Linked DNA regions of Homo sapiens. The protein of the gene in region 2 purifies or fractionates together with the protein of the main gene of each other region. This does not show direct contact. Each region holds a gene or a part of one and is shown on either strand. Other genes may lie near its edges.

Evidence for each region.
Region 1: the proteins of KIF2C (region 2) and SRGAP3 purify together in Homo sapiens (affinity purification with mass spectrometry; one large-scale study listed by BioGRID and IntAct). This does not show direct contact.
Region 3: the proteins of KIF2C (region 2) and RBM26 purify together in Homo sapiens (affinity purification with mass spectrometry; one large-scale study listed by BioGRID and IntAct). This does not show direct contact.

What each region holds. Positions count from the first base shown.
Region 1 is NC_000003.12:8,980,641-8,984,292, forward strand, and holds part of SRGAP3 (SLIT-ROBO Rho GTPase-activating protein 3), read right to left. Parts: 3' UTR 1-3,652. UniProt on the Homo sapiens protein: GTPase-activating protein for RAC1 and perhaps Cdc42, but not for RhoA small GTPase. May attenuate RAC1 signaling in neurons.
Region 2 is NC_000001.11:44,746,267-44,749,918, reverse strand, and holds part of KIF2C (kinesin-like protein KIF2C), read right to left. Parts: intron 3,526-3,652; exon of another isoform or gene 3,163-3,525; coding exon of another isoform or gene 3,160-3,162; intron 2,536-3,159; coding exon 2,434-2,535; intron 2,268-2,433; coding exon 2,219-2,267; intron 1-2,218. UniProt on the Homo sapiens protein: In complex with KIF18B, constitutes the major microtubule plus-end depolymerizing activity in mitotic cells. Regulates the turnover of microtubules at the kinetochore and functions in chromosome segregation during mitosis.
Region 3 is NC_000013.11:79,368,141-79,371,792, forward strand, and holds part of RBM26 (RNA-binding protein 26), read right to left. Parts: intron 3,023-3,652; coding exon 2,805-3,022; intron 851-2,804; coding exon 590-850; intron 1-589. UniProt on the Homo sapiens protein: May be involved in the turnover of nuclear polyadenylated (pA+) RNA.

The DNA.
Region 1 (3,652 bases), on a different chromosome or scaffold from region 2:
CAGCAGGCACCATCAGAATACGCGACAGAGGATCCAATCAGACACTCTATAGGACGGGCGTTTGGTCGTAAGGTAGAGAAACGATATCCAGAAGAGGGCAACATTTATCATCACGTGGGGACAGGCAACCAGCAATTTCCTAGGGTGGTTTTGGTCTGTTTTTCCTGTCACAATTTGGGGAGGAAGGAAACCAAAGGAAACAAAATAGACCAGCCACTCTGAAGCAATCAGAATCAAACCTATTGCCAAACCATGTAAACAGTCACACTGCCGGGAACAAGGGCCTGGGCAGAAACCCTAGCCAGGATCTACTTCCGTCTAAGGAAGGAAAAGTGCACTCTGGTTGTTCTGGTTCAAGGAACAGCTTTGTTATTGGCCGGGGACAACTCACACAGAAAGGAGGTGTCAACAAGGGGCAGCGATGGCCATGTGGCCAGTCCCAGAGGGACAGCAGGACACTGGCAGATCAATCTCAGGGAGGTCAGGAGGGCTTGGACCTGACAGCAAAGTCCCTTCTCTCGGCTCCCCTGGGCAGCTTTGGATATGTGGGGAATGTTCTATGTGGCTGCTCAGAGGAGAGGAGACCCCAGAGAACCGGGGAAGTTGACATGAAATGTCAGCATTAGCTCTGCACAGCAGAAAATCAGCTAGGCAACACCTCGGCTCACCCCTTTCTGCCTTTCCTCCTGGCCGCCACCCCGACTCCCAGCCCAGCAGGGGCTAACCCCATGGTTGTGAGCCAGCCACTCTTCTTTCTGGGTTTCTCAGGAGAGTGAGGCATTTGCACTAGTGTGGAACCATCTGGATGTGTGAAAAGTTAGGAATAGAAAGACTGAGAGGAAGAACCATTACCCGAGTCCTCGTGTTTTTCCATTAGCTGTGGACATGCACTGAATGCCACATCACGACCAGGTCACGAGAAGTCCTCCACATTCGTGCCTCCTGAATGACAGAGAAATATACCCAACAAGGCACTCCAAGGGACTCCAACAGAGAAGAAAGCCCCACATAAAGGCCCCTTCCCACACTGGTTCCTCTTTGTGTACCACAAACCGGTTTTAAATGTTTATAAGGCAGATCTCTGAACTGCTGGTTCCAGCCGATAGCCAAAATATGGCTCAATTTCCCTGTGTCTCTTCCCACTCCGATTTCTTCATTGAATAGAAACCTTTCATCCCTTGGGAATCCATCTCTCTCCTGACCCCTGGCCTGGTGACTTCAGAGAAAAGACTCCAAAGTCTAATTCCCAAGCTCGCAATTCCCTCCGATTGTGCACTCTGTCCGGGGTTCAAAAGGCGCTTCGAGGTGAGAAATCGTTAGCACTGAAACAAGGAAAGGCAAGAATTTTTCATAGAATCCCACAGCTCAGAGCAGCTCTTTAAGAGGAAAAGGGAATAAAAGGGGACGGGGAGAGTGGGGTAGGAAGCACAGCTTGTTCTCAATTTTATCCAAAAAGCTCTTTAGTGGCAGCTGAGCCACAAGGCCCAGGAAACTAGACCAGGAATTAATTGTCTTTGGTCAGTTTTAAATGAACAACTTGCTGGTTCATTCCTAGAATAGACTGAACGTCGGTTACACATAAAGACAAAAGGCTTGACCTCAGGATAAGTCGAAGGTTAAGAAAAGAAATCATTCCATGAAGCAAAGAAAAAAAAATGCCCGTTGTCAACTAACTGATCAGTACGGCTTTCAATAATGGTGATGAACAAGTAGGTAAACACCACTTCCCCTTGTACAATTGGTTATATTGAAGACTACTAACTAGGTTACTACATTTCCCCCACACTCACTGTACAGTTAGGTATTTGTTTTTACATTGATCTATCTACTAGGTGCAAAGATTTGGTGAGTGGCATTGGCTAAAATTTAATTGTAGCCTTTTTAAAAATTACAATTTCACATTTTAACAGTTACTTTCCAGCATTTAAGCAAATACAGCAATATATAGTGGACTAAAACAGGCAGGAGTCAGAAAGAGAAAGCCAATGTTCAGTGAACGTCGATGGGACTGAGTGCTGTGGAGGGTGAGTGAGACATGCATAGTGCCAGATGAGGAAGTGGGAACAGGGGAGGGGGGCGGGAAAGTATTTTTCCACTTGGCCTGCGTCAAGGCTCAGATCTGGGGCTGGATGAGTGGGGAGACGTCTGCCATCTGTGTGTGTACATCCCTAAATGTGAACTCATCAGCCATTTCCCAATGGAAAAAAAAAAAAAAGGTGCTTAAAGAAAACAGCTAAGACTCTGCCCTCAGAAAATTCAGTGAAAGGCAGGTCCATTTTCAGTAAGAAAAAAACAAAATCAGTCAATTCAGAGAAAAATCCACACGGTCTGATTGGTGTTATGTATATCAGGCAACAGATTTTTCTACTCTGATTGTTGCTTTTCATCTGGCAGTTGTGGCAGATTGCTATATTTTGCCTGGGAGGCTACTGGATTTAGGATCTGGGAGTATCTTGAGGGTAGAAATCAGAAGTCTTGTGTCCTGGCTGGACAGTATAGCATCCAGCATGCAAACACATGACTTTAAGAGCCTGACGCAGCCTCTGCTCCTAGCCAGTGTCAAATCTTGGGCAGGTCACAGCACAGCCCAAGGCCTTACTCTCTTAAGCTGTAAAATGGCAATATCTTTCTGTGCTCCAAGCAGATGGCCTTTCATATCCAGGAGCTAAAGAGAAGGGTTCATTCTAGGCCAAACAAGGGAGGTCAAGTTTGACACTGGCCTCTCCCTGAGATCCCTTTTTTTGTTCCTCTCCTGATGCTCCCTTCCACTGTGGGGTGTCAAGTCCAGTCCTTCAGACGAGGTAGTGGCTTTACCCTCCTAACTTATCTAGGTGCCAGTGACTTAACTAGGTCCCTCCCTTTGGGTGTATTTACCTTTTCGCGGGGGACCAGAGGAGAGGGCACCACTTCATCCAATGGGCTGAAATGTTAATGATGGAATCCAGGGCTCTTATTAGGATGGCAGGAAAATTCCACTGCTCACTTCTGAAATGCCATTGGGAGGTTTCAAAAAGAAGGGCTGGAGGGCTCTGATCTAAGACTTACCTTACTAATGATAATCACAAACGCATTGTATTGATTCAGTGTTTTCCAGTGTACACAGCTTGCTCACTGATGTTTGACCTTTATTACCCTATTTTATGGAGCAGAACAGTCAGGCTCAATGAGGTGGAGTGACAAACCCTAAGTCAGAAGGCTCCTAAGTGCTCAGGGCTGGGACTCAGACTCTGGGCCTTTTGACTCCAAACTTCAGTGGCCTCGAGAGAGAGGAAGCGTGGGAACAGTAGGGAAAAGCCCCTGGGTCTCGCAGGAGAGGGTAAGTAACAGCGGCCCACAGGGCACACAGATTTGCCCGTGTGCCATTATCCAGAAACAGCTCATCTCTGGAAGTGATCAGAAGAGGAGGTAAAATGGAATCGAAGGAGAGCGACCCGGAAGGGCTTTACTTGGCCAAGAGGCAAAGGCCTGGCTGTCACACGTGAAGATCATGCACCCATTTCTATCACCACATTTTCATCTACACTAAATGTTCTGGAGGGAGTGGGTGAAGGGGGAGGGAAGGGAAGCTATGTCACTTGTATTAACTCAACTGACAGTGTCCTCTAGGACAGAAAGTGCCAAGGACTGCCCCTCCCTGGCCCCAGTCTGAACT
Region 2 (3,652 bases):
TTTTAGTACAGACGGGGTTTCACCATGTTGGCCAGCATGGTCTCAATCTCTTGACCTTGTGATCCACCCGCCTCGGCCTCCCAAAGTGCTGGGATTACAGGTGTGAACCACCGTGCCCAGCCCATCTTTTTTGAGAGACAGAGTCTCACACTGCCACCCAGGCTGGAGTGCAGTGGCATGATCTTGGCTCACTGCAACCTCTGCCAAAACCAACTTCTACCCAGTTTCTGAGTATTATAAGTTCAGGCTGATGGCTATATATAATCCATGTTTTGAATTTTTACAATCGTCCTATTTCCCTAATGATTTTATTTTATTTTTTATTTTTATAATAAGACTGAGTCTTGCTATATTGCCCAGGCTGGTCTCAAACTCCTAGGTTCAAGCCATCTTCCTGCCTCAACATCCCAAAGCACTGGGCTTACAGGTGTGAGCCATCACATCTAGCCCCAAATGATCTGTAATTTTTTTTCTTTGTTTTTTTGAGACCGAGTCTCACTCTGTCACCCAGGCTGGAGTACAGTGGCATGATCTCGGCTCACTGCAACCTCTGCCCCCCCGGGCTCAAACGATTCTCCTGCCTCAGCTTCCTGAGTAGCTGGGATTACAGGCACCCACCACCACGCCTGGCTAATTTTTGTATTTTTAGTAGAGACAGGGGTTTCACCATGTTGGCCAGGCTAGTCTTGAACTCCTGACCTCAGGTGATCCACCCGCCTTGGCCTCCTAAAATGCTGGGATTACAGGTGTGAGCCACCACACCCGGCCAGTTTTTTGTATTTTGAATAGAGACAGGGTTTCACCATGTTGACCAGGCTGGCTTGGAACTCCTGACCTCAGGTGATCTGCCCACCTTGGCCCCTCAAAGTGCTGGGATTACAGGCATGAGCTACTGCTCAGGGCCTTAAAGATTTTTTTTTCCATTAAAATGAGCTGTGTAGCTGGGCATGGTGGTGTGTGCCTGTAGTCCCAGCACTTTGGGAGGCTGAGGCAGGAGGACTGCTTGAAGCTAGGAGTTCAAGACCAGCTTAGGCAACAAAGCGAGACTCCATCCTAAAGAAAAAAAGCTATTGGCTGGGCATGGTGGCTCGCGCCTGCAATCCTAGCACTTTAGGAGGCTGAAGCAGGAGGATCACTTGAGGCCAGGAGTTTGAGACCAGCCCAGGCAACATAGTGAGACCTTGTCTCTACAAAAAAAAAAAAAAAAAAAATTAGCCAGGTGTGATGGGGCACACCTGTAGTCCCAGCTACATGGGAGGCTGAGGTGGGAGGATTGCCTGAGCCCAAGAGTTCAAGGCTACAGTGAGCTACGATCATATCATGGTATTCCAGCATGGACAACCAAGTGAGACCCTGCCTTTGAAAAACAAAACAAAACAAAGCTGGGGCAATATCCTTTGAGGACATGAACACGGAATGGGACTGCTGCGAGTCCCAACTCTCCTGCATGACCTTACGGTACACCCAGCAAGAAAGGGCCAGCACCACAATAGTCAGGCCCAAGCTTGCAATGGCACCACCTTCCACTCAGGGCCCCCAGAACCTGAAGCTCCAGCCAAGTATTCTGTGAGTCCCTGAGGTAGCTGAATCATTTCAGGGCAATGATGACCCCTAGACCTGGAGAGCTGTGCAGGTCACCAGCCTTCAAGGTACAACTGGCTTTAAGCTGGATCTTTTGGGAAGCTTACCCCCTAGAGTCACAGTCTATCATGTTGTCAAAGTAGGTTTTCACAGACTACTTCTGCAGAGAGACTCCCAACCTCCTAGACCACGAGGCAATGCTGTTATTCTCTCCAGCCCCAGCCATCCCTCTCTATAGCGCCACCAACTGTACTTCTAAACAACCCACAGGCCTAGTGTCTCCCATTTTCAAAATCTCTTTCCAAGGCATACTGTTCCACTGAGGGGGCTGAGCCCCGAGGGAAGAAAAAAGGCCTACCAATGGCTGATTCCTACTCTCCTCAGCATCAGGCTCTGGATTCTACAGAAAAGGTTTCTAGGCCAGGCAGCAAATTTCCTAAATGCACCAGGTCTCTTAAAGGTTGGCCTGATAGCTGTAGATTGGATTCTTTCTCATAGAGAAAGATGCTTGGAACACAGGCAGGACTCAACCCACATAGAAACCACCTGCAAAAGAGGAGCTTCCACAACTCTGAGTCCTAGAAACATAATTCCTGACACAAATTCCATGATAGTAAGCTAGTAGAAATCCACTTACTTTCTTTTGGAGCAGGAATTTTGGAGTTGACGGATCTCCGTTTTTGTTTCTGAAAAACAAATCAAATTGTCACAATATATGGCTCTTATCAATTCTCAAGGGCCCATCCTGGGCCCATGTACTATGCTAAAATGCCAGACAATCAATCAGCAAAGAGTCAATAAGCAAAGTGAATTCTCTGGCGCACTGGCTGCAGCCAGATGACAGGCACCTACCTGGATTGTTACATTTTCCTGCAAGGGCAGATTGTCCTTCGGATGTAAGGGAAGAAGCTGTAAGAGTTCTGGGTTTATTGCAGCCACATCATCAAAATCAATCTGCAAGGAGCAAGTAAAAGTTTCAATGAAACAACATTGTTCAATCCAAATACATTTTTTCTTTTTTTTTTTTTTTGAGACAGAGTATCGCTCTGTCGCCCAGGCTGGAGGGCAGTGGTGCGATCTTGGTTCAATGCAACCTCTGCCTCCTGGGTCCAAGCAATTCTCCTGCCTCAGCCTCCTGAGTAGCTGGGACTACAGGCATGCGCCACCACGCCCAGCTAATTTTTGTATTTCCAGTAGAGACAGGGTTTCACCATGTTGGCCAGGATGGTCTCAAACTCCTGGCCTCAGGTGATCTCCCCACCTCGGCCTCCTAAAGTGCTGGGATTACAGGTGTGAGCCACTGTGCCTGGCCCCCCCGAGGCTGAGGCGGGAGAATTGCTGGAATCCAGGAGGCGGAGGTTGCATTGAGCTGAGATTGAGCCACTGCCCTCCAGCCTGGGCAACAGAGCAAGACTCTGTCTCAAAAAACAAAAAACAAACAAACAAACAAAAAAACAACATAGAAAAAATTAAATTTCTATAGACAGGGGTACCCCTAAATTCAAACTTTACCAACTTTAAGTTCCACTAAGTATGAATAGCTATAAAACAAATAGTTACTCCTTAATAATGGTTTACCATCTAGATGGATATGGGTTTCTGATTTCCAAGCCAATGGTAGACGTCAGTGATGAGAATGAGGTGAAGAGGAGGGCAGACAGGCAGGCAAACAGTCGGGTACTCCACAGCAGATCTAGGCCACTTGGCTCCCCTGCTGATCTGCTGGGCAGTGAGGTCCTGCTGGGCACAGCCCCCCAAGCACCTCTTGATGGCTGACACGGAGGAGGAAACAAGTTCTAACTGTCTGGTGAGAGTCAAATGGGGGCCCTTTAGGATCTTATGGGCAGGGGCAAGTTCCTGACAGCTGCTACCTAACCCTAAGACTACCTACATTTTCTTCTGGGCCCAGAAACTTCCCCAGTTACGGCTTCCTGCCCATGCCTTACCTATTTCCTGTTGATGCCTGCAATGAGGTCACAATTCTAAGTTTACATCATCAGAGTCCTGCAATTCTCCAGGAACAACTCAAACTTCACCAGGATAGCTTTACAACAGGTTCAGACATATTAAA
Region 3 (3,652 bases), on a different chromosome or scaffold from region 2:
CAGCCTCCCGAGTAGCTGGGACTACAGGCGCCAGCCACCACGCCCAGCTAATTTGTTGTATTTTTAGTAGAGACGGGGTTGCATACCATGTTAGCCAGGATGGTCTAGATCTCCTGACCTCATGATCCACCCACCTCAACCTCCTAAAGTGCTGGGATTACAGGCGTGAGCCGCTGCGCCCAGCCAAAAGTCTTTAATTCTTTAATAAAATTCTTACAAAGGTGACATTTACATTTCTAGATACATTTCTATTTACAGTCCAATAATCACTCATTCTAAAGAAATGAGTTTTGTCAATAATGTTTCAGTAGCAGATTCCCTGATAAAAACTCAGTAGATATTTACTCATTTGGTAAACTCCCACAATTTATTAAGACTTACTTGCAAATAAATACTACCTTTAAATTGATAATCAAATTAGTGGCAACTAATAAATGTTTCAATCATATTGAGGAATTCAAAAAGTGACTAAGGCTAATTTCCCACTTTTCAGAGGTAAGTCTTTGAATAACTATGTACAACATAAACACAGAATTTAGGCAGCTGGAAATATTAATTAAATACTTTATCAAACAGCTGAAAGACTTACCATCATAGTCTCTACACCGTTTCTTTGGCATGGGTGGTCTTACGTAAGAGTTATGGTCCACTTGGTCTTCATGAAATTCAGACCAACTTTCGGTAGTGTTGTTTCCATGATGAGTAGGAGCAATTACTGTAATAGTGCTGCTCAAAGTAGGTACAGGGTAGTGGCCAGATGAAATACTAGGTACCGAAGAGACTGGAGTATAATTATTTTCTAATGGATCTGTTCTATCCAGGTCATATTTAGGTTTTACCAGATCCCTTTCTGCAACGAAAGATAAATGACATATAAAACTACACTGTATTAAAAAAAAAAAAGTCCCAGATCTAAGAAATAGTGATATTTTTATAAACATAGAAAAAAAATTTTAAATTTTGCATAATAATCATTTTCTTTTAAAAAATATTCAATTAATATACAATGTTAAAAGGTAAGCGATTTCTTTTTAATATAACCCAAACTACAAAACCAGGTAATGCTGCCATATTTAATGTTTTTCCTTAGAGTTTTGTTTATAGAAAAAAGGAATTTTATATTTTCTTCATCACAATCTTGGTATGCATAATTACAGACCACAAAACAAAACATGCAATAAAGTATGGTTATTTTTCCTGTGATGAACATTTTGTAGTCATCCATTTAAAGTTACTACAATGGCTGTTATATTAAGATAAGAACGGATGACCCAGAAAGAGTTCATATTAAACATGCACAAAGAAATTAACTAGACTATACATATGGTCCTCAGGAAACAGAAAAGAAATTAAAGAGATTAGTTAAGTGAAGTAACATTCCATGAAGCCTTGTATACCTAGATCACAGCAGGGGAAAATTTCTAAGAAAAGAGTAACAGAATACAGGGCTTATACAAAGGCCATAAATAGTATTAAGAGTAGCAAAAAAAGTTTGAGAAAAGGTGCTTTACTGAAAAGTGTTTTAGGTGTTTTACGACAACATCTTACTTTCAATAACATGTACTAGAAGAAAATTATACATGTTGGGAATGACACGCTCTTGCAAAAATATATATCTGAAATAAAACTTTTTAAACTTTTAAAAATAGTTTTGAAGTATAACTGATATATAATAAACTGAACATATTTAAACTGTATAAGTTTTAATCAAGATATAACACCTCTGAAACCAATACCACAAATAAATGATGTACATATTCATCACTTCCAAAAGAATCCTCATGCCCCTTTGTAATCTGTAATCTATCATCCCTCCTTTACTCCATTTCAGGCAACGACTGGCTTTGCTCTCTGTCATCACAGATTAGTTTGCATTTTTAAAAACTAGTCTGGGCACAGTGGCTCAGGCCTATAATCCCAGCACTTTGGGAGGCTGAGGCGGGTGGATCACCTGAGGTCAGGAATTCGAGACCAGTCTGGCCAACCTGGTGAAACCCCCAACGTGACTCTACCAAAAATACAAAAATTAGCCGAGCATGGTGGCACTTGCCTGTAATCCCAGCTACTTGGGAGGCTGAGGCATGATCATCGCTTGAACTCAGGAGGCGGAGGTTGCAATGAGCTGAAACAGCACCACTGCACTCCAGCCTGGGCGACAGAGCAATACTCTGTCACAAAAACAAAGATTAAGAAAAAAAATTTTTTAACATACATATGTATTGTCCTGCTTCTTTCACTCAGCATAATTATACTGAGATTCATCCATTTTGTTGCATGTATCAATAGTTCTTTTCTTTTTATCCATGTTATGGTATGGATATACCACAACATGTTTATACATTCACCTCTTGATGGACATTTAGGCTGTTTCTAGATCTGGCTCTTACAAATAAGTCTGCTATGAACCTTTGTGAACAAACACCTGTGTGGACATACACTTTCATTTCTTCCAGGTAAACAGTAAGAAGTAGAATAGCGGACCCATATGCTAAGTGTAGTTTTAATATTTTTACATACTGCCAAAATGTTTTCCAAAGAGTTTCAGCTTATCTACTTTCTCACCAACATGGAATAGAATCAGTCTGTATCATCGTGGCTATCCTGTTGAATGTGTAGTGGTAACTGTGATTTTAATTTGCAAGGAATAAAACTTTTAAAGGAATTTTTAAAAAGCATTCTCTTGGACCACAGAATACATCATAATAGAAAAAAATGAAGACAACACTGACAAAATGTTAAGCAATTTTTAAAAACATTTAAACATGGAGTTTTTCATAAAAAGATAACCAAAATATATTATTTACCCCTGCTTCGTGTTCTGCTTCTGCTTCTAGTCCTGCTTCTATCTCTGTCCCTCTCACGAAGCCTCTCTTTACTCCAACTTCGACTTCGACTCCTGCTATAACTGCGACTCCGCCCTCGTCTTCTATTGTACCGGTCTCTGTATGAATCTCTTCGAGGAGGGTTTCGATCATAATCTCTTTTGCGAGAACGATCATCTTTTTTCCTCTCATCACGGCTTCTAAAGAAATATGTGATCACTTTAATACAAATAATTTTTAAGTGACACAGGAAAAAGCTAATTAAATGCAAAAGTTACATTTAATTCTTGTAACTTAACTTTCTATCCTACCATCAGACAACTGAAAAAACTGAGCTTAATATTCAGTACTTTAAATCCCTTTTAAATGAAAAACAATCTTTTTAAAGCCTTAACCCTTAGTCTTATTACACATTGGCAACTATACAATTAGGCATCTGTAGATAAAGGCATCTGTATATAAGACTTAGAGTACATATAGAACATACTATCCCGTACATATAATCTCACTTACAGACATGTATCACATGCATTGTATTCTAAGTGCTTTTGAAGCCTGAATGAGAAAAACAATTTAATCACACTAAATGGAAACAGCAGGCAAAAAAAAAACACCCACACATTAAGATTCTACTGGAATCTGAAGTTAGGAATAAAAAGATAAGCAGCTAATATATGTCAAGCACTGTTCTAAACTCACTCCCAAGATCTACAAATCTGACCTAGATTTTCATGGTAGAAACGGACCTAGTTATATTTTCCTAGACCAATAAAAGAGTAGATATTACTTGCCTCTGCGTAAAAGATAACCCAAGTCTAAACATTTGTATA